4 separate regions of the Homo sapiens genome follow, and regions 2, 3 and 4 are each reported to be linked to region 1. Evidence: microRNA targets listed by miRTarBase, many of them from high-throughput screens and not tested one by one. Region 1 holds a microRNA gene; each other region holds the end of a gene's coding sequence.
The links. Region 1 holds the annotated microRNA hsa-miR-3163 (UAUAAAAUGAGGGCAGUAAGAC, at 4,189-4,210, shown strand). A microRNA usually pairs through its seed, bases 2 to 8, with sites in the 3' UTR of a target mRNA and lowers its output. Matches are read on the target gene's strand: a 7mer-m8 pairs with bases 2 to 8, a 7mer-A1 pairs with bases 2 to 7 and ends in A, and an 8mer does both.

Region 2: the mRNA of ZNF680 is a reported target of hsa-miR-3163. Seed matches in the 3' UTR shown: 8mer at 3,169-3,176.
Region 3: the mRNA of STX7 is a reported target of hsa-miR-3163. Seed matches in the 3' UTR shown: 8mer at 5,392-5,399 and 7mer-m8 at 789-795.
Region 4: miRTarBase lists PPIL4 as a target of hsa-miR-3163. Seed matches in the 3' UTR shown: 7mer-m8 at 6,237-6,243 and 8mer at 5,933-5,940.

What each region holds. Positions count from the first base shown.
Region 1 is chr11:66,930,695-66,938,685 of GRCh38, reverse strand. MIR3163 (microRNA 3163) reads left to right here and starts at 4,180; the gene lies at 4,180-4,252. The region is part of intron 3 of PC (pyruvate carboxylase); the gene reads left to right.
Region 2 is chr7:64,515,088-64,523,078 of GRCh38, reverse strand. It overlaps ZNF680 (zinc finger protein 680), which reads left to right. Exons shown (of 4, transcript NM_178558.5): 4 at 579-3,201. The coding sequence ends at 1,918. Among named protein-coding and RNA genes, the nearest start is that of ZNF680, 44 kb to the left of the region's middle.
Region 3 is chr6:132,454,256-132,462,246 of GRCh38, forward strand. STX7 (syntaxin 7) reads right to left here. Exons shown (of 10, transcript NM_003569.3): 10 at 1-6,595. The coding sequence ends at 6,503. Among named protein-coding and RNA genes, the nearest start is that of STX7, 55 kb to the right of the region's middle.
Region 4 is chr6:149,499,010-149,507,000 of GRCh38, forward strand. PPIL4 (peptidylprolyl isomerase like 4) reads right to left here. Exons shown (of 13, transcript NM_139126.4): 13 at 5,486-6,695. The coding sequence ends at 6,444. Among named protein-coding and RNA genes, the nearest start is that of ZC3H12D, 18 kb to the left of the region's middle.

The DNA.
Region 1 (7,991 bases):
CATTTTTTGTTATTTTGGAATGCTATACCAACAATTTGTTCAGGTTGCTGGAGTTACAAAATTATGTGTTTAAAAAATTTTCTATATAGTATTTTTTTCTTTATAGGATGTTTTAATTTTAAGTTATCAATTTAAAAAATCTAATTAGAGAAGGGTGCAATTCATAACACTACTTGGGGCTTACGGTCGAGTACTAGGTACTTAAATATCAGAGTTTGACTCTTTTACCCCTCTTTTCCAAAAAATTGTTTTGGGGGATGAAAACCTCTTTCTAAATGCCATATGAGATATAGATTGCTGGGGAGTGGTGGAGTGAGGACTTCATAAATGCTGTTCCTCCATTTAAAGGAATGAGAAAACTGGCAAAAATGATTAAAACCAACTTTTTCAGAACTCGAGAAATTAACCAAAGGCTTGCAACAATCTAAGACACATTTATTCAGGAAAAATCGCAGAAAAAAGTTATTCTTGTTTTCAACAAAAAGTTATGAGGCATGCAAAGAAACAAGAAAGTATGGTTCATACACAGGAAAGACACAGTCTTTTCCAGCCTAGATGTTGGACTTCATAGACAATGATGTTAAATCAACTATTTTAAATTTGTCTAAAGAACTTAAGGAAAATGTGAGAAGAGTGTCTCACCAAATAGAGGGAGGCCAAGGCAGGTGGATCACGAGGTCGAGAGATCGAGACCATCCTGGCTAACACAGTGAAACCCCGTCTCTACTAAAAATACAAAAAATTAGCTGAGTGTGGTGGCACGCACCTGTAGTCCCAGCTACTCAGGAGGCTGAGGCAGGAGAATCGCTTGAACCTGGGAGGTGGAGATTGCAGTGAGCTGAGATGGCATCACTGTACTCCAGCCTAGGCAACAGAGCAAGACTCAGTCTCAAAAAAAAAAAAAACAAAAAAAACCCAGAAATTCTGGAGTTGAACTGTGTAGTTACTGACATGAAAAATTCACTAGAGGCTGAACAGCAGATTTGAGCAGGCAGAAAAAAATCAGCAAGCTTGAAGATGGTACCTTGAGATTTTTCAGGCTAATGAAAAAAGAATGAAGGAAAATTAACAGCCTCAGAGACCCATGGTGCACCGTCACACAAATCAACATATGCATCATGAGAGTCCCAGAAGGAGAGGAGAGAAAGGGTCAGAAAGAATGGCCACAAGCTGATGAAAAACAGTAACCTACCCACTCAGGAAGCTCAGTGAACTCCAATGAGGATGAATATCAGAGATCCACACCTAGATATTTCATAATCAAAGTGTCAAATGACAAAGAATCTTGAAAGCAGCAAGAGATGAGCAACTTATCTTGTTCAAAGGATCTTTGATCAGATTAACAGCTCATTTCTCCTCAGAAATCATGGGAGCCAGGAGATAGTGGGATGAACACTGTTGAAGGCAAAACCTTCAACTGTAATTATTGGACTTTTGAGTCTTAGATGGTCCTGACCTCTTTGTCTTCAGGGACAGTTTTTCAATTTAATCCCTAATAACAATTAGTCAAGCTTCCTTGACCTGTAGGAAGGCCTGTCTTTAGGCCGGGCACAGTGGCTTACACCTGTAATCCCAGCACTTTGGGAGGCCCAGACGGGTGGATCATTTGAGGTCAGAAGTTCGAGACCAGCCTGACCAACATGGCGAAACCCCCATCTCTACCAAAAATACAAAAATTAGCCAGGCGTGGTGGTGCATACCTGTAGTCCCAGCTACTTAGGGGGCTGAGGCACGAGAATCGTTGCTTGAACTTGGGAGGCGGAGGTTGCAGTGAGCCAAGATCGCGCCACTGCATTCCAGCCTGGGAGCCTGGGTGACAGAGCAAGACTCCATCTTAAAAAAAAAAGAAGACCTATCTTTTATAGAGTTCCCTTCCCCAAGTTTTTCTACAAATACCCAGGGATGCTTATGTGTTCCACCAAGTTTGGAACATAGTTAGGGAGTGAAAAACATAGGTTAAATGAATGTCATCTGTCTGGCTTGGTTATTTCCTTGGCCAGCTGTTCTCTTCTGTATGTTGCCTAGTTCTCCCTGCCTCAGGGCTGTTGCTTCACCCTTCATACCATATTGCCTTAAATACACAAACGACCTGTCAGGCATTTCACAACATTTTACTGAATGCTTGGAGATAGCAGAATGGAATTACAATACAGAAAAAGATGTTTTGCTCACAAAGGGGAATTTACCCTTTACCTCAAGAAAAATAGAGCAATTGCCAATAACAATATTGGTGGCCTCTCCCCTGCCCATTAACCATCAAGACGTCAGCAAATACTGGGGTCTAATCTCAACTAGTGTTACTCCAGGACACCATATGGAGCTGACTGCTGATGTTCTGTTCTTGATAATATCCCTTATGTGTGTGTAGCACTTTATAGTTTTTTTATTTCATTTTTTTCTTTTTTTCTCTCCCCCCCCACCTTTTTTTTGTGTGTGTGTGTGACAGGGTCTTGCTCTGTCACGAGGCTGGAGTACAGTGGCACCATCCAAGCTCACTGTAGCCTCCACCTCCTGGGCTCAAGCAATGCTCCCACCTCAGCCTCCCAAGTAGCTGAGACTACAGGCATGTGCCACCACACCCAGCTGATTTTTTTTTTTTTTTTTTTTGAGACAGGGTCTCACTCTGTCACTCATGCTGGAGTGCAGTGGTGCAATCACAGCTCACTGCAGCCTCAACTTCCAAGGCTCAAATGATCCTCCCACCTGAGCCTCCTGAGTAGCTGGGACTACAGGCATGTGCCACCATGCCTGGCTAGTTTTTGTATTTTTTGTAAAGACTGTGTTGCCCAGGCTGGTCTCAAACTTCTGAGCTCAAGCGATCCTCCTGCCTCGGCCTCCTGAAGTGCTGGGATTACAGGCATGAGCTACAGCACTTGGCTAGTTTTATTTTATCAACCAGTTTTCCCTGGAACTGGTTATGGTTGTGGTTTTGCTGCTTATGGATGACAGACCCGAGGTTCAGAGAGGTTCAGTGTCTCTCTCAGCTTCACTAGGAAGAGTTATAGCCAAGCTCTGACAGCAGCAAACCAGATTCTGGCCTGAGGTTCTCAGAATATGCTGCCGTTCCACAGGATGTTGCAATATGGTGTGGCAGGGTGTTACAGTGCACAGGGCTGAAAAGACCAACCTGAGACCCTCCCCTTTCCTTCTGAAGTTATCACTTCATGGACGTTTGCAGCTTTTATCATAAGAGCCATTTGTTGTCGCATGGCTTGTGGCCAACTGGGAGTCTACCTCCATCTAAGGCAGGGCTCTTCTCCCTGCCATGTTGCCCAAGGCTGTTTCAGTAAGACTGTAAGGTTTTCTTCAGCCCTCCTGGCTTTTGACTGCCCCATTCCAACTGGTTGCAAAATAGCTATTTGTGTTTTTGCTGACCTGAGCCATCTTTCTGTCCATTTATACTTCTGATATTCTTACGTGGCAATCAGTATCTAGCAGAATGAATGCCCCATTTTCTAATCCTGCGTTTTCTCAGTTGACTGAGTGGCTTAAGGAGGACAAGTTATTACTGGGCAGTACTCCAAGAAATGGTTCTTTCCTTCAGCATTTACTGTGCATCTGTGCTATGCACAGCTCCTTACTGGATGCTGTGAGGCCACAGGAGGATCTGACAAGGTGGCCTTGCCCTGAGTTGTTTATCCGTGGTTGGGAGAGAGGGAATGCACGTGCTGGACAAAATACATGCTTGCATAGTGACTGGCTAGCGTGGAAGAGTAGTAATGACCTCATTGATCCTGCTTCTGTGCCAGGTGAGATGCTAAATGCATAAACATACACAGGGGGCTGGGCGCGGTTGTTCACACCTGTAATCCCAGCACTTTGGGAGGCCGAGGCGGGTGGATCACCTGAGGTCAAGAGTTCGAGACCAGCCTGACCAACATGGTGAAACCTCATCTCTACTAAAATACAAAAAATTAGCTGGGTGTGGTGGGAGGCTGAGGTAGGAAAATCACTTGAACCCAGGAGGTAGAGGTTGCAGTGAGCCAAGATCGTGCCATTGCACCCCAGCCTGGGCAACAGAGTGAGACTGTATCTCAAAAACAAAAACAAAACACACATAGGGAATTACCGGGGAGTGGCATAGCAGAGTTGAGAGCATGGACCCTGGAGTCAGGCGGACAGGATGGAGTTCAGGCTTAGCCCTGATCAGCAAGTTCCTTAGCTTCTTCAAGCCTTGGTTTCCTCATCTATAAAATGAGGGCAGTAAGACCTTCCTTCCTTGTCTTACTACCCCCATTTTATAGATGAGGAAACCAACCAGTGGGGGCTGTTGGGTAGAGATCAAATGCAATAACTTTTGTACAAATGAAATAACACACGTTCATTCTGTACAAATGAAATAACACATAAACAAATGAAATCACACAGTCATGTGCCTGACACTTGGACACACCGTAATGGTGGCTCTGTTAATGGGACCAGTGATGAACAGTTAGAAGTGAACCCCTTGAGGGTAGAATATGTGAATCCGAGGCCCTGCAAGATGAGGGGACTCTCTCAGGTGGGTGGAGGAGCTGGTCCTCGCATGTGTGATATTTGAGTTCGTAGGAGGCGGGTGCCCCCGGACAGTGGCAATGGGAGTGAGGCCAGGTGATGAGACAGAGGGTGATGCCCCAGCCTCGCTGGCGTGGAGGAAGGCAGTGGGAAGCCGGCAAGGGTGGAGGTTGTGCCTGCATTGATCACTGTGGAATCCTCAGGGCCTAGCACTTGGGAAGCAATGTTGGAGTGTGCTGGTGGGGCGTAGTGAGCATTAGGGCTGGAAGTTCATTCTGTGAACCCCAGCTGCGTGTTGGGATTTGAGACAATAAGAAGCCCCTGAGATGCTTGAGCCAGGACTACCCAGAGGTGAATGGGATTTTTGGAAAACCTCTGGGCGGAGTGGGTGGCTGCCTGGGAATGGGGAGAGGCAGAGGTTGGGTGGGGACTAGCTCAGCAGGGAATGTAACTCAGACATTCCGGAATGATGCAAGTGGAGGTTAGGGAAGTGGTTGCAATGGGAAGGAGGTGGCAAATATAAAGTGTCACAGAAGAAAAGTTGTCATGGGGCCAAGTGGAGGGAGGGATTGGAGAGCTCTAAATTGCAGCTCAATCTTCATCTTGAAATGCAGGATGGAAAAAGCCACCCCATTTATTTAGCTAAAGGGAGCTGACTCCAAGACCTGAGGTCGGGGAAAAGTGGAGAGACAAATAGAAAAGAAATAGGGAATTGGGACAGGGCACCATCTTTCGGGATGGTGGGCTTTTAAGCCCAACTCAGCATTTCCTGAGAAAATTGAGATAGCTTGAGACCAGAGCAATAAGCGTTGAGACTTACCCGGAGAAAATGTTACCCAGAGAGGAGAAAGGGCTGGTAGGGCCTGAAGATTCTTGAGCTGATTTTCCCCAGTTCTTGCCTCTTAGTGCCTCCCATTTCTCCTCATCTGACGGTTTCTGGGTGAGACAGTTGCATCTCATCTGTGGTAGGCTGCCTACTGCTTGGTGAGCCTGGGCTGAAGGGCTGAGGCCTCTGGAAGAGCTGTCAGGAGAGAGACACCTTCAGGGTACTTGGAGCTTTCGCCTTGCTTCCAGGGCGGGATAGGTGGAAGCTGAAACTGCCTCCTAGCAAACAGATTTACACTGATCAAAACAAAGTATTTGTAGGTGTTAGAGTTAAGAGGTTGAGGTTTTCCGTTGGATTTTTTAGGTGCATGGTGGAAGAGGTATTTTAGACGAAGGATTCTCCTAGCAGACACAAAATATGAATTAAGAACACTTGTTTCTGTTTTTCTCCCAACTACTTCTTGATATTCATAGTTCCTGGTGCTGGGACTTTGGAATGGGTTTTGGTGTGCAGAAAAGACAGGGCATTTGCTGCCAACAGGGGACATAATTGAGACTAAATTCACAAGATAAGGGATGGTATGATTTACCTTCCAAGAAAAGATCTGTGTCTGGTCCTGTATCTGGCTTCTTTCTTTATTGCTTTTGCAGTTCTGAATCAGTTTTCTTTCCCCGATGGCTAGCTTCTCCAGCTGGAGAGAACACACAGTTTAAAGAGGCTTTCCCCCCAGGGCCAGATTAAGGATACTTCTGGGCTAAAGGGCAAATGCAGCCATTCCTAGCAGATTTATGGCCCCGAAAGGACATTTCGGCCACTGCATCTGCGAGATTTTTGTCCCACATCAGCTAGCCCAGCAGCGTAAGCCCAAGGGTTTAGTCATTGACAGAGTCCAACCAAGGGGTCTCTGTGGAACCCTGGGCTTGAATGGGCTGGAGTTCTACCCTCCCATTGAAATCATTTGAGATGGTAGAGTGCCTTCCATGCTGAAAACAGGTCTCATGTAACAGTTACTGATGGGGCCAAGGAAGCCCAGGTATGACCTAGGTAACTCCTCAGAGATGCTACTGTTGAACCTAATAGTCTTCTAGCAGGTTACCAAGCGGTAATCCAAAGAGTTAGTGTTTAACTTAAAAAAAAAGGTATTCAGTTTAGCTATGTAATACTTGCACCTTGTACAAACATTGAAATGTATGAGTCTCCTTTTTCCTCTCTCCCCAGTAACCCAGTCCCCTCCCAGGAGGCCACTTCCGGTTAAATTATCTTGTCTGTCCTCTTGGAGGTGGTCTGCCCTTTGAAATAGAAACATATTTCCTTTTTTCTTTTTCTTTTTCTTTTTTTTTTTTTTTTGAGACAGAGTCTCGCTCTGTCGCCCAGGCTGGAGTGCAGTGGCGTGATCTTGTCTCACTGCAAGCTCCGCCTCCCGGGTTCACGCCATTCTCCTGCCTCAGCCTCCTGAGTAGCTGGGACTACAGGCAACTGCCACTATGCCCGGCTAATGTTTTTTGTATTTTTAGTAGAGATGGGGTTTCACCGTGTTAGCCAGGATGGTCTCTATCTCCTGATCTTGTGATCCACCTGCCTTGGCCTCCCAAAGTGCTGGGATTACAGGCGTGAGCCACTGCGCCCGGCTACAGAAACATATATCTATTGTTTGTTTCTCCTGTGCCCTTTCTGCTCCATGCCCTTTTCATTTATCAGTGTATCTTGGAAATCGTCCGATGTCAGCACAAATAAAAAGTCTGCAGTACTCTGTGTGCCATTGCATGTTTTTTTTTCTTCATTTTGCCATTTGTTTATTGCAAAATCCCACACTTAACAGAAGACATGTTTAAAACATATGAGTATGTTAAAACAAAATAGTAAAATGAACATCTATGTTCCCATCCCTAGGTTAAGGTTAGGACCATATAAGCCCCCTATGTTCCCTCCCCGGTTGAAGTCCCTTCCCTCAGCTATTCCTTTTTTTTTTTTTTTTTTTTTTCTTGAGATGGAATCTTGCCACTCTGCTGTCCAGGGTGGAGTGCAGTGGTGCCATCTCGGCCCACTGCAACCCCTGCCTCCTGGGTTCAAGTGATTCTCCTGCCTCAGCCTCCTGAGTAGCTGGGACTACAGGTGTGTGCCACCATGCCCGGCTAATTTTTGTATTTTTAGTAGAGACGAAGTTTCACCATGTTGGCCAGGCTGGTCTTGAACCCCTGACCTCAGGTGATCCGCCCACCTCAGCCTCCCAAAGTGCTGGGATGACAGATGTAAGCCACCACACCTGGCACCCCAGCTATTCTGAATTTTGTGATATTTATTCTCTTGTTCTTGTTAGTTTTCCCACCGATAGCCAACCTCTGAATAACTTATTGTTGAATTTTGCCTGGTTTTGAACACCTGGACATGGAATCCTACAGTAGATTTCTGTGACTTGCTCAGCATTACATTTGTGATTCGTCCATGTGGATGCACATGGCTCTGTTCATGTTCACTGCCGTAGAGCTTTCCATTGAATGAATATCCACAGTGTGTTGATCCTTTCTGTTGCCCTGTTGCCAAGAAGGCCTTGGTCTGCCTTTTGTTTTTTTTCCTCTCTCAGGAATAACCCTGCTGGGAACTTTTTTTTTTTTTTTTTTTTTTTTAAGACAGAGTCTTGCTCTGTCGCCCAGGCTGAAGTGCAGTGGTGTGA
Region 2 (7,991 bases), not on the chromosome of region 1:
TATTTTTATATAATAATGTGTTGTTTTCTGTCATGTTATTTTCAGTGGAAGAAACTGCTTTCAGCATCTTTTATATGTAGGGAATTTGCAGTGCCAATATACTTTTTCAGAATTTGGTTATTTTGGAAGTTTTTTCTTTTTTTTTTCCATTTTGTAGGACAGATTTGCTGATGGTATTATTCTCATTTGATATCTATTTTTTTCATGACTTTGACTATATCACACACTTCTTTTCTTGCCTGCAAAATTTTCTTGACAAATTCACTGGTTATTTAAAAAGACTATGCTTGTAAATGACATATCATTTTTATACTGCAACTCACAAGATTCTCTTCTTGTCTGTGACTTTTGAAATTGTGTTTATATATGTGTTTGTTATAAATATCATTGTGTGTATCCTAATTTGTTGAGCTTCTTCATTTGTACATAACTTTTTTTTTTTTTAACTTTTAGGATTTTTTAGTTATTTATTTTTGTATTTTGCTTATGTAGTTTGTGTAATTTTATAAATTTGATATGTAAAATATATTCATCTGAGTCTAGGAAGTGGTGTAATTTGTTACTTTTATGTCTTTCAGTTATATATTCTCATTTCACTGAAGACCTTTGGCCAGAGCATAGCATAAAAGATTCTTTTCAAAAAGTGATACTGAGAGGATATGGAAAATGTGGACATGAGAATTTACAATTAAGAATAAGTTGTAAAAGTGTGGATGAGTCTAAGGTGTTCAAAGAAGGTTATAATGAACTTAACCAATGTTTGAGAACTACCCAGAGCAAAATATTTCAATGTGATAAATACGTGAAAGTCTTTCATAAATTTTCAAATTCAAACAGTCATAAGAAAAGAAATACTGGAAAGAAGGTTTTCAAATGTAAAGAATGTGGCAAATCATTTTGCATGCTTTCACATCTAACACAACATATAAGAATTCACACTAGAGAGAATTCTTACAAATGTGAGGAATGTGGCAAAGTTCTTAACTGGTTCTCAGAGCTTATTAAACATAAGGGAATTCATATGGGAGAGAAACCCTACAAATGTGAGGAATGTGGCAAAGCCTTTAACCAATCCTCAACCCTTATTAAACATAAGAAAATTCATATTGAAGAGAAACCCTTCAAATGTGAAGAATGTGGCAAAGCCTTTAGTTTATTCTCAATCCTTAGTAAACATAAGATAATTCATACTGGAGACAAACCTTACAAATGTGATGAATGTCACAAAGCCTTTAACTGGTTTGCAACCCTTACTAACCATAAGAGAATTCATACTGGAGAGAAACCCTTCAAATGTGAAGAATGTGGCAAAGACTTTAACCAGTTTTCAAACCTTACTAAACATAAGAAAATTCATACTGGAGAGAAACCCTACAAATGTGAAGAATGTGGCAAAGCTTTTAACCAGTTTGCAAACCTTACTAGACATAAGAAAATTCATACTGGAGAGAAATCCTACAAATGTGAAGAATGCGGCAAAGCTTTTATACAGTCCTCAAACCTTACTGAACATATGAGAATTCATACTGGAGAGAAACCCTACAAATGTGAAGAATGTGGCAAAGCTTTTAATGGGTGCTCCAGCCTTACTCGACATAAGAGAATTCACACTAGAGAGAATACCTACAAATGTGAAGAATGTGGCAAAGGCTTTACTTTATTTTCAACCCTTACTAACCATAAAGTAATTCATACTGGAGAGAAATCCTACAAATGTGATGAATGTGGCAATGTTTTTAACTGGCCTGCAACTCTTGCTAATCATAAGAGAATTCATGCTAGAGAGAAACCCTACAAATGTGAAGAATGTGGCAAAGCTTTTAACCGGTCCTCACACCTTACTAGACATAAGAAAATTCATACTGGTGAGAAACTCTACAAACCTGAAAAATGTGACAATAATTTTGATAACACCTAAAACTTTTCTAAACATAAAAGACACCATCCTGTTGAGAAACCCTAAAAATGTGAAGAATTTGACAAAGCCTTCCAATGATTGTTACACTTGCTTGTAGGTAAGATAATTTATATTGGAGAAAACTTTATAAGTGTAAAGAATGTGACAAAACTTAACCAATACTCACATCTTATTGCACAGGAAAGCATTTTTACTTGAGAAAGATTGTACAAGTATAAAGAATGTGAAAAAGTCATTGATATCTTTTCACATCTTACTCAACACCAGAGTTTATACTTATTAAAAGCATTATAAATGCAATTACTGTCAAAAGAAATTTCAGAAAACATAACACTTTAAAGTGAAGAAGCGTGTTTATTTTGAAGACAAACATAACAAATATAAGGAGCATAGGAGGGTTGTAGTACCTTTACTTGTATTACAAATCTTATTGTACGCATTTTGTACTAGAGAAAAACACTGAAGCAGTTGCTCAAACTTTGTTCAACATCAGGGAATTTATATTGGAGAAAAATCCTGCAAATGTAATGAATTTGGAAAAACATTTTTTTTCAAAAACTACGGCGTAGAAAACATGAATTTATATTGAAATGTGTTTTTGCAGATGCAGTAAGTATGAAAAATATTTAATCCAAAATTGAGTCTATGTAAATATTAAATAATTTACAGTAGAAATAACTAAGGCACTGACACTTTAGACATTACACTAAAACAGAGTGTTGAGTATAAAAAAATCTATAAGTTGTTAGATTATTTGTAAATAACTTTAAAAGGAGTAGAAGATTCTTTGGAGAGTTATAATTACATTGAAAGTATACTTTTTTTCTTGAAAAAATTATGGCTTATTTGAAAAGTAAATAATGATGAAATTCAACTCTCAAATTACTTTATTTCATTCCTATTGTATTCACATGTGAAAGCATGTGATAAATTGTTGCTGTGTCAGATATAGGAGAGATTCTTTTTTATTAGATGGGCATTATTTATGGTTTTTTCTGTGGAAGAGTATGGGCATTAAAATGTAAGGTTTATGATGAAAATCTAAGTGGAGAGGCCCTGTTAGTTTACTTTTCATATTGAGTGATGCATGAGGTAGGTGTTTGGAGTAATATTCTGCATCATAGAGAAAAGCATTTTTAATTTTACTTTAAATTAAATGTAATTAAATTACTAGTGAATCATTTTACTAATTGTACTTTTATGCTATAAATGCAGTACATTTGAAAATTTTTAGATTATGTATAAGCTTAATTTTATAATTAAACATTTCTTTAACATGTTAAGACTATTGTGCATTCAATGAAGCGTTATTATGCCATTAACTTTAACCTTTTTCACTTTACTCAAGGAGGGAGGTAAAAGAGAGTAACAATATGTTATTTGGTCATGAGATGTTAATCTTTCTGTGCCTGGCTTATTTCAACTAATATGCTGTCCTCCAGATTAACTGATGTGATCAAAAATAATAAAATTTTCTTTTAGATTCCACATAGCAAAAGCAAGAGTAAGAGAAAAGAACAAATCTGGAGGCATCACATTACCTGACTTTAAACTATACTATAAAGCTTTAGTCATCGAAACAGCATGGTGCTGGTATACAAATAGGCACATAGACTATAAACGTGTGTGCAAGTATCTTTTTTCATATAATGCCTTTTTTTCCTCTGGATAGATACCCAGTAGTGGGATTGCTAGATCAAATGATAGATCAACTTTTAGTTCTTTAAAAAAATCTCCACACTATTTTTCATAATGGTGCTAATTTACATTCACACCAGAAGTGTAAAATTGTTCCCTTTGCACCACATCCCCACCAACACTATATTTTTTTATTTTTTAATTATGGCCATTCTTGCAGGAGTGAGGTGGTATCATATTGTGATTTTCATTTGCATTACTCTGATAATTAGAGATGTTGAGCAAGTTTCCATATGTTTCTTGGCCATTCGTATATCTTCTTTTGAGAATTGTCTATTCATATCCTTAGCCTACTTTTAAATGAGATTGTTTTTATTTCTTGCTGGTTTATATGAGTTTTTTGTAGATTCTGGATCTTAGTCCTTTGACAGATGTATAGATTGTGAATATTTTATCTCACTCTGTGGGTTGTCTGTTAACTCTGCTGATTATTTTTGCTCTGCAGAAGCTTTGTAGTTTAATTAAGCCCCATCTGTTTATATTTGTTTTCGTTGCATTTACTTTTGGGTTCTTATTCATGAAGTCTTTGCCTAAGCAAATGTCTAGAAACGTTTTTCCAATGTTATCTTCTAGAATTTTTACTGTTTTAGGTCTTAGATTTATGTCTTATGTCTATCTTGAGTTTATTTTTGTATAAGTTGTGAGATGAGTTTCCAGTTTTATTCTTCTACATGTGGCTTGCTAAACATCCCTCCATTATTTGTTCAATAGGGTTTCCTTTCCCCACTTCATGTTTTTGTTTGCTTTGTCAAAAATCTGTTGGCTGTAAGTATTTGGTTTTATTTCTGGGTTCTCTATTCTGTTCCATTGGTCTATATGCCTATTTTTATATCAGTACCATGCTGTTTTTGTGACTATGGCTTTATAGTATAAAGTTATGTAAACTTTAGGATTGTCTTTTCTCATTCTGTGAAGAATGATGTTGCTATTTTGATGGGAGCTACATTGTATTTCTAGATTGCTTTTGGCAATGTAGTCATTTTCACAATAGTGATTCTACCAATCCATGAGTATGGGATGTGTTTCCATTCGTTTGTGTCGTCCGTGATTTCTTTTAGCAGTGTTTTGTGGTTTTCCTTGTAGAGGTCTTTCATGTCATTGTTTAGGTATATTTTTAAGTATTTTTTTTCCAGCTATTGTAAAAAAAAGTTGCATTCTTGATTTAATTCTCAACCCAGTCACTGTTGGTGTATAGCAGAGTGACTGATTTGTGTACATAAATTTTGTATCTAGAAATTTTGCTGAATTCACTTGTCAGTTCTGGGAGATTTTTGGAGGAGTCTTTATGGTTCTTTAGGTATACAATCATATCATCAACAAATAGTGACAGCTTAAATTCCTCTTTGGATGCCCTTTATTTCTTTCTCCTATTTGAGTGCTCTGGCTAGGACTTCAGTGCTATGTTAAATAAAAATGGTGAAAGTACACATCCTGGTGTTGTTCCTGTTTTCAGAGAGAATGCTTTCAACTTTACCCTGTTCAGTGTTATGTAGGCTGTGTGTTTGACATAGATGGCTTTTATTACATTGAGATATGTCCTTTGTATGCAGATTTTGCTGAGGGTTTTAATTATAAAGGAATGCCGGATTGTGTCAAATGCTTTTTCTGTGTTTATTGAGATGATCATTGTTCATAATTCTGTTTATTGGTGTATCACATTTATTGACTTGTATATGTTAAATCATCCCTGCATCCCTGATACAAAACCCACTTGATCATAGTGGATTACCTTTTTGATATGTTGTTGGATTCAGTTAGATTTTTTTTTTTAAAGGATTTTAGCCTCTGTGTTCATTAGGTCAGTCTGTAGTCTTCTTTTTTGGCTATGTCCTTTTCTGGTTTTGGTATTAGGGTGATGCTGGCTTCATACAATGAATTATGGAGGTTCCCTCTTACCGTGTCGTGTGGAATAGTGTCAATAGGATTGGTACCAATTTTCCTTTTAATGTTGGGTAGAATTCTGCTGTGAGTCTGTCTGGTCTTGGACTTCTTTTGTTGTTAATTTTTTAAATTACGATTTTAATCTCACTGCTTGTTATTGGTCTGTTCAGGGTTTCTGATTTTTCCCGATTTAAGCTAGGAGGGTTGTACATTTGCAGGAATTAATTTATCTCCTCTAGATTTTTGTGTTTATGTGTGTAAAGGTGTTCATAGTAGCCTTGAATGATCTTTTGTATTTCTGTGATGTCAGTTGTAATATTTCCTGTTTTGTTTCTAATTAAGCTTAATTGAATATTCTCTCTTTTTTTCTTAATCTTGCTAATGGTCCATCAATGTTATTTATCCTTTAAAAAACCAGGTTTATGTTTCATTTGTCTTTTTTTCTTTTTAATCTTATTTAGTTCTGCACTGAGCTAGGTTGTTTCCTTTCTTCTGCTGGGTTTGGGTTTGGTTTGTTCTTGTTTCTCTAGTTCCTTGAGGTGTGACCTTAGTATATTGTGCTCTTTCAGACTTTTTGATGTAGACATTTAAAGCTATGGACTTTCCTCTTAGCACGGCCTTTGCTGTATCTCAGAGGTTTTGATAGGTTTTGTCACTATATCATTCCATTAAAATTTTTAAATATTTTTTGTCTTGATTTTATTGCTGACCCAATGATCATTCAGAAGCAGTTTATTTAATTTCCATGTATTTGAATGGTTTTAAAGGTTTTTGTTGTTAACTTTCAATTTTATTCCACTGTGGTCAGAGAAAGTACTTGATATCATTTCAATTTTCTTAAATTTATTGAGACTTGTTTTTTGGCCTATCATATGTTCTGTCTTGGAGAAAGTTTCACGTCCTGATTAATAAAATGCATAGTTTGTGGTTTTTGGCTAGAATGTTCTGTAAACAGCTGTTAAGCCCATTTGTTCCAGGGTGTAGTTTAAATCCGTTTTTTCTTTATTGACTTTCTATCTTGATGACCTGTCTAGTACTGTCAGTGGAGTATTGAAGTCCCCCACTATTATTATGTTTCTGTCTATTTAATTTCTTAGGTCTAATAGTTATTGTTTTATAAATTTGGGAGCTTATAAAGCCCCATTTTCCATTTTTACAGTTTGGGCACTCAGAATATTTGGGCTGTCTCCCAGGTCCTACAGGAGCTATTTGCTTCCTTTAAAGGGACTGTGAATTATCCTGCCTTTCCTGGTATATTCCTAGAGTAGTTCTATGTAGTTTTAGCAATGCAACAAGATTTAACAGGTTTTCTTTTGTTTGAGATAACACTTAGAGTTTTTTGTTTTATTTTTATGAAAATTAAAAAGTACGAACACAAAAGTGAGGTTGGAGTGAAAGTTTAATAAGCAAAAGAAGAAAGCTTTTTGCTAGCAGAGAGGGGTTTCTGAGTAGGAGTTCCCCCTGTGAGGCTGGGGTTCAGGGTTATTATGGACTAGGAATAAAAAGAAATGTGCTTAGTTTGTGGGCTGTTTTGGAGATCTTGTGACTTAGCTTGGCCTGGGACTAATTAGAAAGCTTGGGCTGAGATCTTGGCCCAGGACCAATTAGAAGCTGAAATGATGATATATAGATGCTGCTTAGCTTGGCCCAGGACCTATTAGAAGCTGAAGTGAAAGCTTGGCCTGGGACCTTGGCCTGGGACCAATTAGGGTCTGAAATGATGATTTATAGGAGCCGCTGTATAGTTTAAATAAAGGTGAGTGCCCACTGGAGCCCACTGTGTTTATGCCCACAAAAGGAGAAGAAACTTTTTGTGGAGCCCTCTGATTATATAAAGGATAAAGGCATTTTATACCAGGCCTTGTTTTTTATTTGAGTGAGCTAGAGGTTTGTGCAAGTTTTTATGTAAATAGGCTGGAGGGTTTTTTTATTTGTGCAGTTGTGGGCATGTTTTTAGGCACAATACTTTGTGCCTGTTTTTTTATTGGTGCCTGCAGCTTGAATTTTTTTTTCCAGGCTGCATTTTACATTATATGGGGTGGAGGCAATGACTCATGGGCTGGGGACTTTTCAGAGACCTTTCTGTTGCTATTTACCTAAGGCAAGCAAACTTCTTTCAGTCTCCACTCAGGAGTGGAAACCCTAACTATTTTTATAGAGATTAGGCATTGGATTTTTTTGGACTGCTTTTTGCTTGAAAGGGGCATTGTGTAGGGAACAGTAGCTAGGATTTTTTAGGGGGGGGTGCTAGTTTAAGGGTTTTTGGAAGAGGTGCACATTTATGTGTGTGTGTATGTGTGTGTGTTGCACTGATGCAAACAACTATATTGTTGTAAGTCAAGAATAATTTAACTAGTTTTTAGATTTTAGAGGAGCTAGGCTGAGAGAAAGAAATGCATTTTAAATTTTATTTACAGGAGTGTACCTTGCTTGTTAAAAGGTTTTAAGAAATTCTTACTTACTTTGAAAAGCAAAATAAAGATTAGCAATTTGT
Region 3 (7,991 bases), not on the chromosome of region 1:
GATTATGGTTGCCAAGGGTTAAGAAGGGAGTAGGGATGGGAGTGAAGTGGGTATGGTCATCAAAAGCAAGATGAGGGATCCCTGTGCTAGAAAAAGTTCTGTGTGGAAACGTTCTCTATCTTAGCTATACCAGTGTCAGTATCCTGGGTATGATATTGTATGACAGTTTTGAAAGATGTTCACTGTGTGGGAAACAAAGTGAAAGGTACACGAAAGAGGTCTCTGTATTATTTCTTACAACAGCATGTGAATCTAGTTTCTCAAAAGTTTAGTTAAAAATACTAGCATTAAACATATTTTATACTTTATAAAGAATGGGCTCTATTTCAAATGTCCATACCATTCCAAAGGAAAGTATTGGTCACATACTCCATTCTAGATTTAAAGAAAATTTAAAACAACATAGAAAATTTCTAAATGACTAAGAAAAATGTTTGACCACAGATCAGGAAAAGACATAAGGACAATAGGGTAGCCCTAATTTTGAACAAAAAATGTTTGTTTATTGCCTCCAAGATAGAACATGAATTTCTTGAACAAGAAATGTTTATTGCCTCCAAGATAGAACTAACGTGAATGATATATAACTAAGGTTATCTTACTATTAGCAAATTTTGGTATATACCCACTGCAAAATAGTACTTAAATGTTAAAACTATGATAACCTTTATGAGGCTGAACATTAAATCTGGCCCTGGGAAGAGGTTGGATGTGGCCTGAGGCACATTGAAAATGCCTCGAAATGAACTCAAAACGACCACAGTACCTAGGTTTGAGATAAGAATGAAATAAAATATATTCCCCATTAAAATCTTGCTTATTTTTAGAATCATTACTGACAGAAGGATCAGCTTTGATCTGAGAGCTTTTCACCGTCAAGTTTTTAGCTATACAAGTTATTAAAAAAGCAAAAGCTTGCATCTTACTTGGATTAAAAACCTAATTTCTAGAAAACAGGTTCTCTTCTTTCTGGTCTGAGTTTAACATTTCAGATCTCCCATTAAACAACTGATCAAAAAACTTTCAGAGGGCATTAAAAAGTGAAACTAGGTATCAGAAAAATCTTAGTCGAGGCTAAATAACTGCATTTATAAGCTTTCTACCAATGCTATTAGGTGTTGGAGTTAGTAACTACTGCCTAACGATACTTACAGTAAACACTTAAAAATTTGTACTTTGGGTTGGCCAAAGTGGGAATTAATGCCCTTTCAAGTTTATTTAAAGATTCAATTCAGTTCTAGAAAACTCCCTCGTCAACAAGTAGAGGTGTTGTGCGTGTAACGACTGGACAGGAAATCTGGTTTTGCCTTCCACCACTTACATTTTAAGCATAAATGCCATCACTACACAAAACCTACGGGAATCCCACTCTAAGCAATTAAGTGACCAACCTCTTAAAAACTTGCCAGAAGCTACAGTGTCTACAAAAACCTATTTAGTGTGTTATTTAGCTCTATTTCTGCATTTAAAATTAGGATTATTTGGAGAAAAATATTACATAATATTCATGTTAACCAAATGATTACAAAAACAAAGAATTAAAATTGGTGTATTGATATGGTATTTGAATAATGAGAAAATGGGCCAATAGGAAGATTTTCTTCTTTATTCCTATTTGATTTAAAAGAAAAAGATTTGCCAAGGGATGGGTAGGGTTAAATTAAAAACATTTTAAGAAACATTTCTTTATATGGAGCATACTTACTGTTTTTGCTTTGAGTGCATTCTGATGAAATATAGATTCCAAATTCCCCTTGGATCTCACCCTTCTGTCTAGTGCTTTGCCCTCTATTTGGGGCAGTAATTCTATACATATCCTGTAAATGTCTGTCCTGATGATCAGGATGCCCAAGCTCTGAATCCAACTGCTGCCACCAAGAGAACGGCTCCTTTTTGGAGCCATTACACACAGATCATCACTCAAATCAGTAGTTTCTCTTTAGAAAACTAGCAATTTTCTGGTAGTCTGTCAATTAAGAAAAGAAAATGAAATTCAGTTACTTAGTAAGGAAAACTGGATAAACAGGAGGCTGGTCCAAACGGAGATTTATATTTAGACATTCCCTTTCTTCCTTGCCTCATTCCTTTCACACAGCTATTTCCCTTCTTTTAACACACCAAGTTCTTTTTATATGCCAAATAACAAAACATAAACTCCCTGAGGGCAGGAAGCTTATTCTTTTGGTTCACTCTTAGAACACTATGCCCAGGCATGTAGTAGCCTGGCAAAAAGCCGGCCCCAAATAAGTGCCAAATTAAGTATTTATTAAGCAACTACTACGGGAGGGAAGGAAGAAGGGAAGGAAGGAAGGAAACTGTGTTAAGTCCTGGGGCCCCAGAAGCTTAGTATATGTATTTTTTATTTTGGTTGGAAAAAAATGACTTGCTTACCATCTAGAGCCAATGCTTCTAAATTTTTCCATCAAAGAATCTTTAATGAAAGTGAGGAAAATTCTGAGGCTTCCACTTCACGTGGTTTGAACTGTACATCTCAGTGTTTGTTTCACAATTATGCTAGACTGTCAACTCACTTCTCTTTCTAGAATGTCCTCTGCAGTGCAGGTAGACCAGAAACCACACTTCCCACAAACTCCTTCTGTCTCTGGTTCTAAGTTGAGAGTTGACCATGAGAAAAGGAGAGACCATCTTTCCTCAGAGGCCACTGCAGACAGAAGTGTAGGCGGGCAGAGGACATGAGTTTCACAGCAGTTTCAAAATCTCTTGCAAGGCACTGGCTTTGGAGCTATTAACAGCTGACAGCTGGGGACAGCTCCCTGAGACACACTGTCAGTGCTGCACGCCAACAGCACAGCCTTCTGGATGTTCTCAAGAGTCACAGCAGTGCCTGGGCCAGCTCCTGAGATCCACCCACTTTGGGGCCGCAGACACCTTCCTCACCCACCCTTTTGATGTCTAATTCCCTATGTTAAAACACTTTACACTTATAATCCATCAAGTGGTTTCTGTTTTTCTAACTGAATTGTTAAAATATGCAAAATTCACATTAAAGAAGTTTCCTACCTATCTTGTGACCTCAGTGAATGAGATGCTGCTTTATCCAATCTACTGACTTTGGAAAATCCAGCTGAAATGAGGAAAGATAATCGTGCATGTCTGGCAACCAGGTAATTTCTTTCCTATCTTTCATGTCACAGTATTTTGAGGACACAAATTCCTAAATACTCAGAAAAAAATGGTTTTATCTTAATTGATTTATAAATTATGTTAGGGTAGTTGTTAAACAGAATTTTGTCAAAGAAGCAGTACACTGTAACACTTTCAGGCTCCCATTGGTTTAAAATTTGATAAGTGTATTTCTTTGCTGACAAGTCAAACTGTTCAAATGTTATGGAGGACTAAAAAGGCCTGGGATTCACAGGCTCATTTTTTGTTTTAACTGAATCATGAAAATACACAACTTTTTTTTTTCCAGGAAAGACAGATGTTATTTACCACCAATGAATTTTTATCATATTTAAATGAACTTGAAAATGTCATTCAACTCAAATCCCTCAATCAACTTACTTCAGCCCATTCTGAAACTTCATATTGCAGCAAACCAGCCATGTGAAAGAAATAAATTCAATTTTGACTTTCAAAAAAAATAAATGCTGCATAAGTTACCCTTGTGGACCTTAGCTATTAAGGTGGACAATGACTTTATTTTCTTTACGTAAGTTTTATATTTTATTATGACATTCATTTTTTCTACATGAAGACACAAATAAAAATTATACCAACTACATAAACTATTTTGTACTTTCCTTGCTAAACCACAGATGTATTTCATGGAAAGAGGGGCCTTTAAAGGCACTTATTTATCATTGTAGGTGTGTCTAAACAATTGATATTCAAAAACACAACTTTTTGTGTACAAAATTTTACAATTTTTAACAAAAGCAGTGAAGACACTAAATAACCCAGTGGCGACCTCTTCAAAGTGCAGTGTCCTTGGTCACCAATGCAGATGCTACTGGGGCAGCCAGCGGGCTCAGAGGGTCCAACTCCAGACACTGCATCCATGGCTGTCCTAGACTGAGTTGCACTTGTAAAAGAGATGGTCCCACACCTACTAAAAAAACAAGCTACTCTAGTATCAATATGACATCACTCTTTTACCATCAATCATATTGCAAAACCATAGTATTTAACGACCAATAAACAGCCAAATACCTAATGCCACATTGTCGTTCAATTTACCTGGCTGGTTAATATCAGTCTGTGTTTGAGTATTTCTTTTGAGCACACAAAAACAAATGTATAGTCACTTGATGAGGAAATTCTTCACTTTGACTCAAATGGATTCACCATGCTGTCAGTTATGAAAACAACTCTAATTTTAATCTCCACAGGGCAACCTTCACTTTTCACAGCAGTTCTAAAACTGACCTACAGAAAAGTTCAAGATTTTTTAAAAAATTTGGCTACCATACTATGTTTCTTATTTAATTTTCTCTAATCAATACTACTCTTACGTTCCAAATATTTCATGGGAAATTTTTCCCTCAAACTTAATATGTTTCTTAAACAAATTGAAGCCACTAAAGTTCCTGTTTAAACCACTGATAACTGCCCCAGTTAAAATAATAATAATTTAAAATGATTACACTTCAAATAAAGGTACTAAAATCACGCCCCCCAAATTTGTAAGCGCTTTTGTTGTTATTGGGTACTCACTGTGAATAGAAGTAAATGTACTTGACCTGTATGAGAATAAACATTTTATCAAGTACAGCAAAAAAAACGGAACTGATTGTGAAAGCCATGGGGATGGGACTTTAAAACAGCGGTAAGACGCTGGTTTATCACCAGAAACCTCATGTGCCTCTGTGCACTTGAAGTAAAGACCACATTTGAGCAGGCCTGGTGGGCTGGCACAGGCCTCAGAACAGGTGCTGTTTGTGTGAATTCTCCTCCCTGCATTGTCCATTCTGTTCTAGGGCAGTCTGATTCTGGCAACAGGAGTCTCTAAGTTCCAATCACTCACTCACAAAAGAGTTTTCTGTAATCCCTTTTGTGGAAAAAAATGGAGTTTTTCTGATATGCAAAGCAACTTCTACCAGTCTGACAAAGTAGGTAAAATCGATGACACCCTAAAATAAAAACCTGGAGTGAACTGGTGCTCCAGAAAGATGCTGAATGGCCACAGTGCATGTGGTGATGTCTCCATGCTGAGGTTTCAGGCAGCACAGCACTAAGTATCAGGTGACCTGTGGTCCCACCAGAGCATAGTCCTCATGAAATAGGCCTAACCAGATACCTTTTAACTCATCTTTATTTTGGTTGCAAAGATGTGGTTTACTTAGCTACTTACTATTTGTTCCCATTTGAAGTCTCAGAGCTTGCCAAGTTAAACACCGCCTTCAGTACCGAGCTGCTATACAAGAACATTATAAAATACAAAGTATAAACTAAGATAATCCTCTTTACAGAATTCAGATTAGTGCATTAAAACAACATTGATTTAAAAAGGGAAGTGAGATAACTGGCAAACCTCCAATTGCTTTTTTAATGAAGGATGACACAAAATGGCACGCAAGGTAAACACTAAATTTTGTCAGGTGCTCAAAAACAGTTAATTGTGGGAAAGTTACTTTCCAAAAGTAATTTTGACCTAAAAATATTAACCATTATTCTATAAGACATAAGGGAAGGTAAATAATGGCCCACAAAACCAGATGATATGGTTAAGATAACTAGTTTAGTGGAATAACAAACTGGGGTCTTAAGAATCCAAACGCAATAGGTATTGGTATTGGTTGTTCATACTCTTCTTCCAAATTATGTTAAACATTTTTAGTAACTACACTTTCCCCCGTAAACATCAGACTTAAATAGACCATATGTAAAAACAACCTATCCTTAGTAATTTTACTAGGCAATCTACAGCAAAAGCTTAATATATACACAGAAAGAGTATCAAATAAACTAGAAAAGTATTCACCGACTTCAGGGTAAAAAAGATCTTAAAAGAAAACCAACAAAAAAATGAAAGACACTTTGTGCTGTTGTGAACCAGAAAAATACAACCCATGTATAGACCTTAATTATTTTACATTATTGAGAATATTTTCCCTGCTGAAGCAAATCAAAATTAAATTTGAGAATTTTAATTGAAGTAACACACATCTAGGTGTGTCACAGTGACAGGGAGATGCAAACAGAATACACACACCTTTAAATTTACGAATTCCCAAAACTAAGTCAAGCAGGGTAAATAAATTATAAATGAAAGGCATATGCAATGTGGGCAAAAACTTAACAACTATTAAATTGAAGACCAAGGGAGTTATGTCAGCAGTGACATTTAGAAAATCTTTCAGTATTAGAAAATATCAGATTTAATCCAAAGGAACCACCCCAACCCCCCCAATAAAAATAACAAAGTATGGGAACCATCCTTTATACAATAGCTTTAAAATAATAATTAAAAAAACATGATTACAGGAATCTTCCTACATAATTTAGACAATGTAGTGCGACAGTGTGCTCCTTTATAACTTCAGTGGTTCAATCCCCATATGATGAGACTGATAATCGCAACTCCAATGACAAGGATAAGAATGATGATGCACAGGGTTTTTCTGGATTTGCGCTGCAGACGCAAAAAACAAAACAAAACAAAAAAACATGTTTACAGATTTAGTGGAGTACCTCTACAGCAACTAAAAATAATTTGGTTCATTTCTAGAGTAAAATCAGTAGTAGTATATTGCCCTCAAATTTTTGACTGTGTTTTTTTGTTCCTCAAAAATCTCTTTAATACATATGGCACTATTCTTTCAAAAAAATTCTTGAACTAATGCTACAATTAAGGGAGCAATTTTTCAACTTTCATTGGTAATTTTTCTAAGGGTGTGGCTGACCTTAAGAAAGAAGACACCACTAAATAAGTTACTGACTTAAACAAGAGACTGAGGTTACCTATGAATAAAAATAAAGAACAGCTTACGAGCTTAAACATTCTTTACCTTTTATTAAAGTTTTTCTTAAAAATGAGTTCTCTGAAGATATCAGTAAGTACAAATTGGCAACTTTTCTTCACATATATTTCTTTTCTTTTTTTTTTGAGATGGAGTCTTGCTCTGTCACCCAGGCTGGAGTGCAGTGGCACAATCTTGGCTCACTGCAATCTCTACCTACCAGGTTCAAGAGATTCTCCTGCCTCAGCCTCCCAAGTAGCTGGGATTACAGGCGCGTGCCACCACACCCAGCTAATTTTTTTTTTGTATTTTTAGTAGAGACGGAGTTTCACCATGTTGGCCAGGATGGTCCCATTCTCCTCACCTCATGATCTGCCCACTTCGGCCTCCCACAGTGCTGGGATTACAGGCGTGAGCCACCACGCCCAGCCCCTCACACATATTTCTTGTTTCCAAAATACAATGATTTTGGAATGAGTTTCCAAAATCATTCTCATTCTTTAATATTAATGGGAAACTACATTCAAAATCTCAACAAACAAAACCACAGAGCAAACAAAATCATAATGCTGTCATTGAAAACCGAATGGTTAAGAATTTTGTTCCGTTCTTCATTCCTGGTTCAGTTGTAGATTTCTTTAATGGCGTTTGTACCTCACATCAACATGCAGGAATCCTTTTTCTTACAAAGTAGAAAAATTTGTAAATTTACTTTGTGTCAAGTAGAAGTACCAAAATATTTATAAAAAGATACATTTCTGAGTCTGAAATTACACTGAAAACCATAAATAGTTTGAATATTCCACATATTCATCTAATTTTTCCAGTGAATACTCCTTACGTATCAAACACAATTTCTCTAAAATTTCAATACCATGCATAAATATTTTTCCCAGACTCCAGTTGGTTACCACAAACACACATGTAATGTACCTGTGAGTCATCACGGGTATCCCACAATGGTGTGTTTGTTGCCTGGGGTACTCCCCCTAGCGTGGGGTAATGAGACCCTGGGGCAATGTGGTGATAAGTGAACTTGAATTTCTCACCTTCCTTATTCTTAGGGTT
Region 4 (7,991 bases), not on the chromosome of region 1:
ACATGAAAAGATACTCAACAACATTACCAATTAAAGAAATAAAAATTAAAACCAGAGTAAGTTATATATCTATCACTATATACCTACCAGAATGCCTAAAATAAAACACAGAGACACAACTAAATGTTGTTGAGAATGCGGATGAAGTGGATCGCCCATATGTTCTTGGTGGGAATGTAAAGCAGTCTGACTCACCCAGGAAAACAGTTCAGCAGTTTCTTTAAATATGCAATTATCATATGACCTAACAACTGCACTACTGGGCAGTTATCCAGAAGAAATGAAGACTGTGTTCACAAAGAAACTAACAGCAGCTTTACTCATTACGGTCCCAAACTGTAAACAACCCAGATGTCCTTCAATGGGTGAATGGTTAAACAAACTACAGTATATTCATACCATGAAATACTACTCAACAATAAAAGTGAACTATTGGCCAGGTACAGTGGCTCACACCTGTAATCCTAGCACTTTGGGAGGCTGAGGCGGGTGGATCACCTGAGGTCAGGAGTTCGAGACCAGCCTGGCCAACATGGCGACACTCCGTCTCTACTAAAAATACAAAAATTAGCCAGGCATAGTGGTGTGCGCCTGTAATCCCAGCTACTAGGGAGACCGAGGCAGAAGAATTGCTTGAACCCAGGAGGCAGAGGCTGCAGTGAGCTGAGATGGCGCCACTGCACTCCAGCCTGGGCAACGAGACTCCATCCCAAATAAATAAATAAAACAAAATAAAATAAAAGTGAACTATTGATACAGCAACAAACTGGAAGAATCTCTGAAGAATAAGGCTGACTGGGGCAAAACAAACCCAATCCCAAAAAGGGATTTGGTTTATAATCCTGTAAGACACAATCTCGAACACCTTAATCCTGAATGGTGAAATCCCAAAAGATCAAAATGCCTAATCTAAAATCCATAATGTCTAAAATCCCAAAAATCACAATCAGAGGATACTGGCATCATGATAGGTAGAACTACAACTTTCTCATTGTCTTTATTTGGAAATTAAGTACGGTTTAAGGAGGTATGTATGGGTGCTGAGTTGATAAGAGGTGTTCTTTGGGACTTAATTTTAGGTGTCAAGTTGATTGGATTAAGGAACACCTAGAAACTTATTAGTGTTTTGAGTGTGTCTGTGCAAGTGTTTCCAGAGATTAGCATCTGAGTGAAGCCAGTGGAAGACACTGGTTGTTCTTAAAGTATTTCAAATGACTGCAGTTATAAAGCTGAGCATACACAATTACCAACCACAGGGCTATGCATTGATACATTTCCCTTTTTGACCTATTTCTTTATAAATACCACTCATCTGTTCATAACTGTCATACCCATGTGACTGTCATTAGTAGAGCTGAGAACTGCTTATGCTTGCAAACATACGTATGTTATTGTTGCCTATTTTATTGTGTAAAGTGGCCTGTGTTTGTATTTCTCAAATCCTCTTTTAAAAATGTGAATAATCAGCCAGGTGCAGTGGCTCATGCCTGTAATCCCAGCACTTTGGGAGGCTGAAGCAGGCAGATCACGAGGTCAGGAGATCGAGACCATCCTGGCTAACACAGTGAAACCCCGTCTCTACTAAAAATACAAAAAAAATTAGCTGGGCATGGTGGCGGGTGCCTGTAGTCCCAGCTACTCGGGAGGCTGAGGCAGGAGAATGGCGTGAACCCGGGAGGCAGAGCTTGCAGTGAGCCAAGATCGTGCCACTGCACTCCAGCCTGGGTGACAGAGCAAGACTCCATCTCAAAAAAAAAAAAAAAAAAAAAAAAGTTAATAACCTGAAGTCAGGGGTTTGAGACCAGCCTGGCCAACATGGTGAAACCCCATCTCTACTAAAAATACAAAAATTAGCCGGGCATGGTGGCGCACACCTGTAGTCCCAGCTACTTGGGAGGCTGAGGCAGGAGAATCACTCGAACCTGGGAGGTAGATGTTGCAGTGAGCTGAGACTGTGCCACTGCACTACAGCCTGGGCAACAGAGTAAGACTCCATCTCAAAACAAACAAACAAACAAAATGTAAATAAATATCTTTTAAAGGTTTTTAAAATTATTCTTTCCAGAATTACATATTTGGGATTATGATTATCAGGGTTTCAACCTTCATGATCATGGCATTTGGGATTATGTATTTCCGGATTATGAGTGGCTCCCCAAAAGGCTACATAATACAGAATTCCACTTATATAAAATCCTTGAAATGACATAATTATAGGAATGGAGAACATATCAGTGGTTGACAGAGGTGAAGGAGAAAACAGAAGTGGCAGGGAAGTAGACGTGGCTATAAAAGGACAGCAAGAGGGGTCCTTGTAGTGATGGAAATTTTCTGTATCTCCACTGTGTCCATGTCAGCATCTTGGTTGTGATACCATACTAGAATCTTACAAGATGGTATCACTGGAAGAAACTAGGCAAAGGGTACACAGGTTCTCTCTGTATTATTTCTTATGATTGCATGCCAATCTACAACTGATTTCAAAATTGAAAGTTTAACCACAGCAAAAAAGCAATCAGAAAGAAAAGTCACATTATATCCAAAAGAATGACATTTGGAATGACAAAAGATTTCTCCCCAGTAGTAACAAAAGTAAAAAGATAGTAGACTAATTCTTCAAAGTACTGGGGGAAAAAAAGACACACCTCAACTTAGAATTATGTACATATAAAATCAACTTTATAGAATGAATTGAAAATACTTTTGATAAATGTAAACTAAGAGTTTGCCATCAACAGATGTCACTAGAGGAACATCAAAAGATGTGCTTCAGAAAGAAGGAAAATTATCCTAGGTGAAAGGTCTGAGATGTGAGAATAATAATGAATAAACAAACACTTCTAACATATAAAGTAAATCTAAACCAACAATTATCTGTACAAAAACAGTAATAATCACAAGGTCTAATTTTTTTTCTAACAGATGGTGTCTCACTATGTTGCCCAGGCTGGAGTACAGAGGCTAGTCACAGGCACAATCGCAGTGCACTGCAGCCTCTAACTCCTGGCCTCAAGGGATCCTCCGGCCTCAGCCATTCAGGAGCCAGAACTACAGGTGTGCACCACTGAGTCCAGCTCAAGGTCTAATTTTAAGGTGAAAAATCACAAGCTATAACTAAAATACTGAATGATTTTAACACGAAAGTTGCAAGAGGGGTGACTTGGAGAGTTCCAAGACTCTCAATTAGAGAGGAAGATAAAGATATAACATTATACTTTTTAAGTACGGATGTAATATTCCAAGGAAATTCCCCCAAAACAAAGAAGAGGGGGCAGAGGGGTGAGGGTGGAATTAAAAAACATTTTTGATTCCAAAAGAAAAAAAAAGAGTGGAAGAAAAAAACATAAAAAGCACAAAATAAGGTGGTAAGGAATAAATGCAAATACATCAGTACACATAAAAATGCACTCAACTAACCAGTTAAAGTTCAGATTAGATTTAAAAATAATTGGCCGGGTGCAGTGGCTCATACCTGTAACCCCAGCACTTTGGGAGGCTGAGGTGGGCAGATCAGAAGGTCAGGAGTTCCAGACCAGCCTGGCCAATATGGTGAAAACCCTGTTACTAAAAAAAAGAAAAAAAAATTAGCCAGGCCTGGTGGCAAGCACCTGTAGTCCCAGCTACTCAGGAGGCTGAGGCAGTAGAATCGCTTGAACCCAGGAGGTGGAGGTTGCAGTAAGCTGAGATTGCGCCACTGCACTCCAGCCTGGGTGACAGAGTGAGACTCCGTCTCAAAATAGTAATAATAATCATCATCATCATCATCTAGCTATATGCTGTTTATGAGACACACTAAAACATAAGGACATTCATCAACAAAGCAGGATAGAAAAATCTAGCTAAACTATGCGCAATGCTATCAAAAAATAAAAACGTCAATGAAAACAAATTCCCAGAAAAATGTAATAAAAATGACTAACATTAAAGAAATAGAAAGGCTAATAATTCTATAATTTTTGAAACCTAATCAATAGTTAAGAAATTTTCTCACAAAAAAATGCAAAGTTCAGACAATTTTATAGGCAAGCTCTATCCAGCTTTTAAGGAACAGATTAATTTAAATGTTTTTCTTTTCTTCCAAGAGAACAGACAGAGGGAAGGAGAGAGAGACAGCACTCCTTAACTTATTCTTAGTATCCACAATCTATTAAGTATAAAAAGACAACAATCTACTACTATATAAATGGGCAAAAGACATGAAACAAGCTTTTCAGAGAGCAATAAGGAATGAATAATAAACATGGGAAAAGATGCTCAGCCTCATTAACATTTAGGAAATACAAAGTTAACTTCCACTCTAGTCAAAATGGAGTAGCAGAGGCACGATTTACCTTCTCCACCTTAAATTAAAACCTATATAAAATGTATACAAGGAAGTTTTTCAGATGTTAGACAAAAGCCAGTGCAGGACAGTGACTCCTGAGAGATGGAAAACAAAGAAAGCCCTATAATTGCGCAAGCTTCTACATGGGGTTTCTAAGCTGTGGCACTAAGGCTAGGGAAGGGAACCTCCCTGGGTAGAGAATTTAGGGGAGCCAAGGTAAGATTTGCAGGGCAGAATATTGGGTTTCCCTTAAGTCTTCAGCTAAACACCAAGCAGTGTATGCATGTGAGGTAAGGAACAGGAGATACAACTGGGAGCTCAATAGGGTTCAGAATATTTCATGTTCCCAACAGACAGAATGCAGAAACCGTGTAACCAGGAAGATTATTCAGAACGGTATTACCTTCGTAGTGGGTCAAATTAGCCCTAAACTAAAGGCTGTCCCAGTCCTGTCTTATTAAGCTTAAAAGCAAGCTATAAAATGATCGGATTGTTTCCAAGTAACTTTATGTCCCCAAACAGAGTTCAAGATACTTAAAAGAACTCCAGCACCCAATATTAAAAACAGAAATTACCAGGCATGTAATGAAGGAAGTTACAATCCAATATGGGCAGGGTGGGGGTTGGGGTAGGGTGGGAATCAATCAATAGAAACAGACCAGAAATGATGCAGATGACAGAATGGGCAAGCACACTGAAAGAGCTATTATCAATACACTCCAGATGTTGAAAAAAAAAAAAATAGAGGAAGGCATGAGCATGTGAAGGAGACACATGGGAGATAAAGACCCAGACAGAAATTCTAAAGACTAAAAATATGTCGGAGGTGAAAAATACCTGGATACGATTAAAAGGAAATTAGATACTTTAGACAGAAAGATTAATAAACAATGAGGACACAGCACTGGAAAGTACCCAACATGAAACACAGAGAGAAAAAGGCTTTTTAAAAAGCTGCACAGAATCAGCACACTGGGAGAAAATTCTGAGGGGCCTAACGTACATCCAAGTCATCAGAGCCCCAGGAGAAGCATGAGAGGAGCAGAGAGAAAACCATAACAGAAGAAAAAATGCCCCCCAATTTCCAAATTCTATGAAAACCATAAACCCACAGGTAAAATAGCTGCAGCAGCAGAAACGTGAAAAAAAAACTACAGCAAGCACATCATAATCAAACTTCTTACAACCAGTGACAGAAAACCTTAAAAGCAGCCAGGAAAAAAATGACATCTTACACATGGAAGAGCAGAGATAACAGTAATCTTGCTGGAAATCACAGGTAGATACCACTTAACATCCACTAGGTTGGCAAATTTTTAAGTCTGAACTTAAGTGTTGGAGATGCTATGAAACAAAGGTAACTCACAGTGCCAAGAGAGGTATAAACTAGTACAGTCACTTCAGAACACAAATTTGGCATTATTTTATCAATATATCAAGCAATATAACTGCTAGATACAATGTTCACAGCAGCATTGTTTCAACAGCAAAAACAAATAAACAAAACTCAAATGTCCATCAAGAATGAATAAGTTGTAGTATATTTATATAATACTATATAGCAATAAAAATGAAAGAAAGTCACAGAAGTAAACATTTTGCCATTTATATAAAATTCAGAAACATACAAAATTAACATTTCACTTACAGATACATACGTATGTTGTAAAACTATAATAGACAAATGACAAACACAAAATTCCAAATAATTATTTGAGAGGGAGAGGGCCTTAGGGAACTTCTAAAATGTCGACAACATCTGTATCTTAAGCTGGCTGATGAGTACACAGATATTTACATTTATTATCCCTTTATATATACGTTTATGTATTTTTGTAGTATGAAATACTTCATTAAAAAAAGAGTGAAAATGTAAGACTTCAAAAATGAAGACTACCATTTATGTATAACAATAAAATTAGTGTAAAAAAGTATACAAAGAAAATGTTCAATTCTTTATCTTTCCGTGCTCTATATAATCAGTATTAATCTAAAGACCATAATCCTAGTATGAAAAAAATAACAAGCTTTGACACAAAATCTAAGCATCTGCTTTCCTGGCACTCTTAAGTTAGACAAGAGTAAATATGTTAGCCTCTCAATTCTGCCTCTTCATCTTTCATCTATACTTAGATTTTTCTTTATCTTTGGACTTCTTTGGACTTCTGCTTCGGTCTCTCTTTTTACTCCTTTCTCTTTCATAAAGATCTGTTTGGTATTTTGATTTATGACTATTACTATAATGGCCATCCCTCTCTCGAGATCGGCTACGACTTCGGTTCTGAGTTCGGTCTCTCTTTTCACTCTTTTGTTTCTCCCAACAGCTTTCTTCTTCTTCATAGTGACCAAACCCCATTTCTCTATAGATATCCTGTCAAAGGAAGGGGGAATTACAAGTGAATCAGTAAAATAATCATTTTGTGGGCATTTTCAATTAATAAAACTTAGAAAAGTCTACCATTAGAAGGCTGTTATAACAGCTTAAATGTGAACACTACCACTAATGTCAAGAATCTTGTAAATTACAAAGCAATAAAATAATTCAGAAAAAGGTTTAACAACGTCATTGATTTGTATCTACTATTTTGGCTGAAACGAAGGATCAGCTTCAAAAATATGGAACTGAAATAGCTCAACTGAAATCAGAACATGTCTCTAGAGCAATCTGCAAAATCAAAAATTCTGATTATGTATAGTCTTATTCCCAGCTCCCCACCCTTCACTCCCCCAAAACGTGGTCCCATTATTGATCTGCAATGAAACTACTAAAATTCCCATAAGAATCCTATAAGAAGATATCATTGAAATAACTTAGCAGGAAGAGATCTTAGACAAGTCAGTAAGTCTTAAATAAGAAAATGGAGGCTGGATGCGGTGGCTCACGTCTGTAATCCCAGCACTTTGGGAGGTTGAGGTGGATGGATCACCTGAGGTCAGGAGTTCAAGACCAGCCTGACCAACATGGAGAAACTCTACTAAAAATACAAAATTAGCCAGGTGTGGGGACGCATGCCTGTAATCCCAGCTACTCGGGAGGCTGAGGCAGGAGAATTGCTTGAACCTGGGAGGCAGAGGTTGCGGTGAGCCAAGATTGCCCCACTGCACTCCAGCCTGGGCAACAAGAGCGAAACTCCATCTCGAAAAAAGAAAATGGATAATGTATACTTGGGTCTGAGCAATTAATTTTTAAAGTGTTTTATTTTATAACAGCTCCTCTCTAGATGTTCAAATACATCTTCCATGTTTAGAAAGACAGAAGTTAGAGAGGAGAATTTTTTTTGAGACAAGGTCTTGCTGTCTCCCAGGCAGGAATGCAGTGGCACGATCATGGCTCACTGTAGCTTCAACCTCCCAGGCTCAACCGATCCTTCCCACCTCAGTCTCCTAAGTAGCTGAGACCACAGGCATGTGCCATCACACCTGGCTAATTTTTGTATTTTTTTGTAGAGACGGGGTTTCCCCATGTTGCCCAGGGTGGTCTCAAACTCCTGGGTTCAAGTGATCCCCTCCCACCTCGGCCTCCCAAAGTACTGGGATTACAGGCATGAGCCACCTCACTCAGCTGATTAGGCTTATGTCAAAATTATTATATTTCTTTAAAATGAGTTTTTAAACACTGGTAGAATCCTTTGCCCCAAAGATAATAAAATTGCTACATTTAATTCTA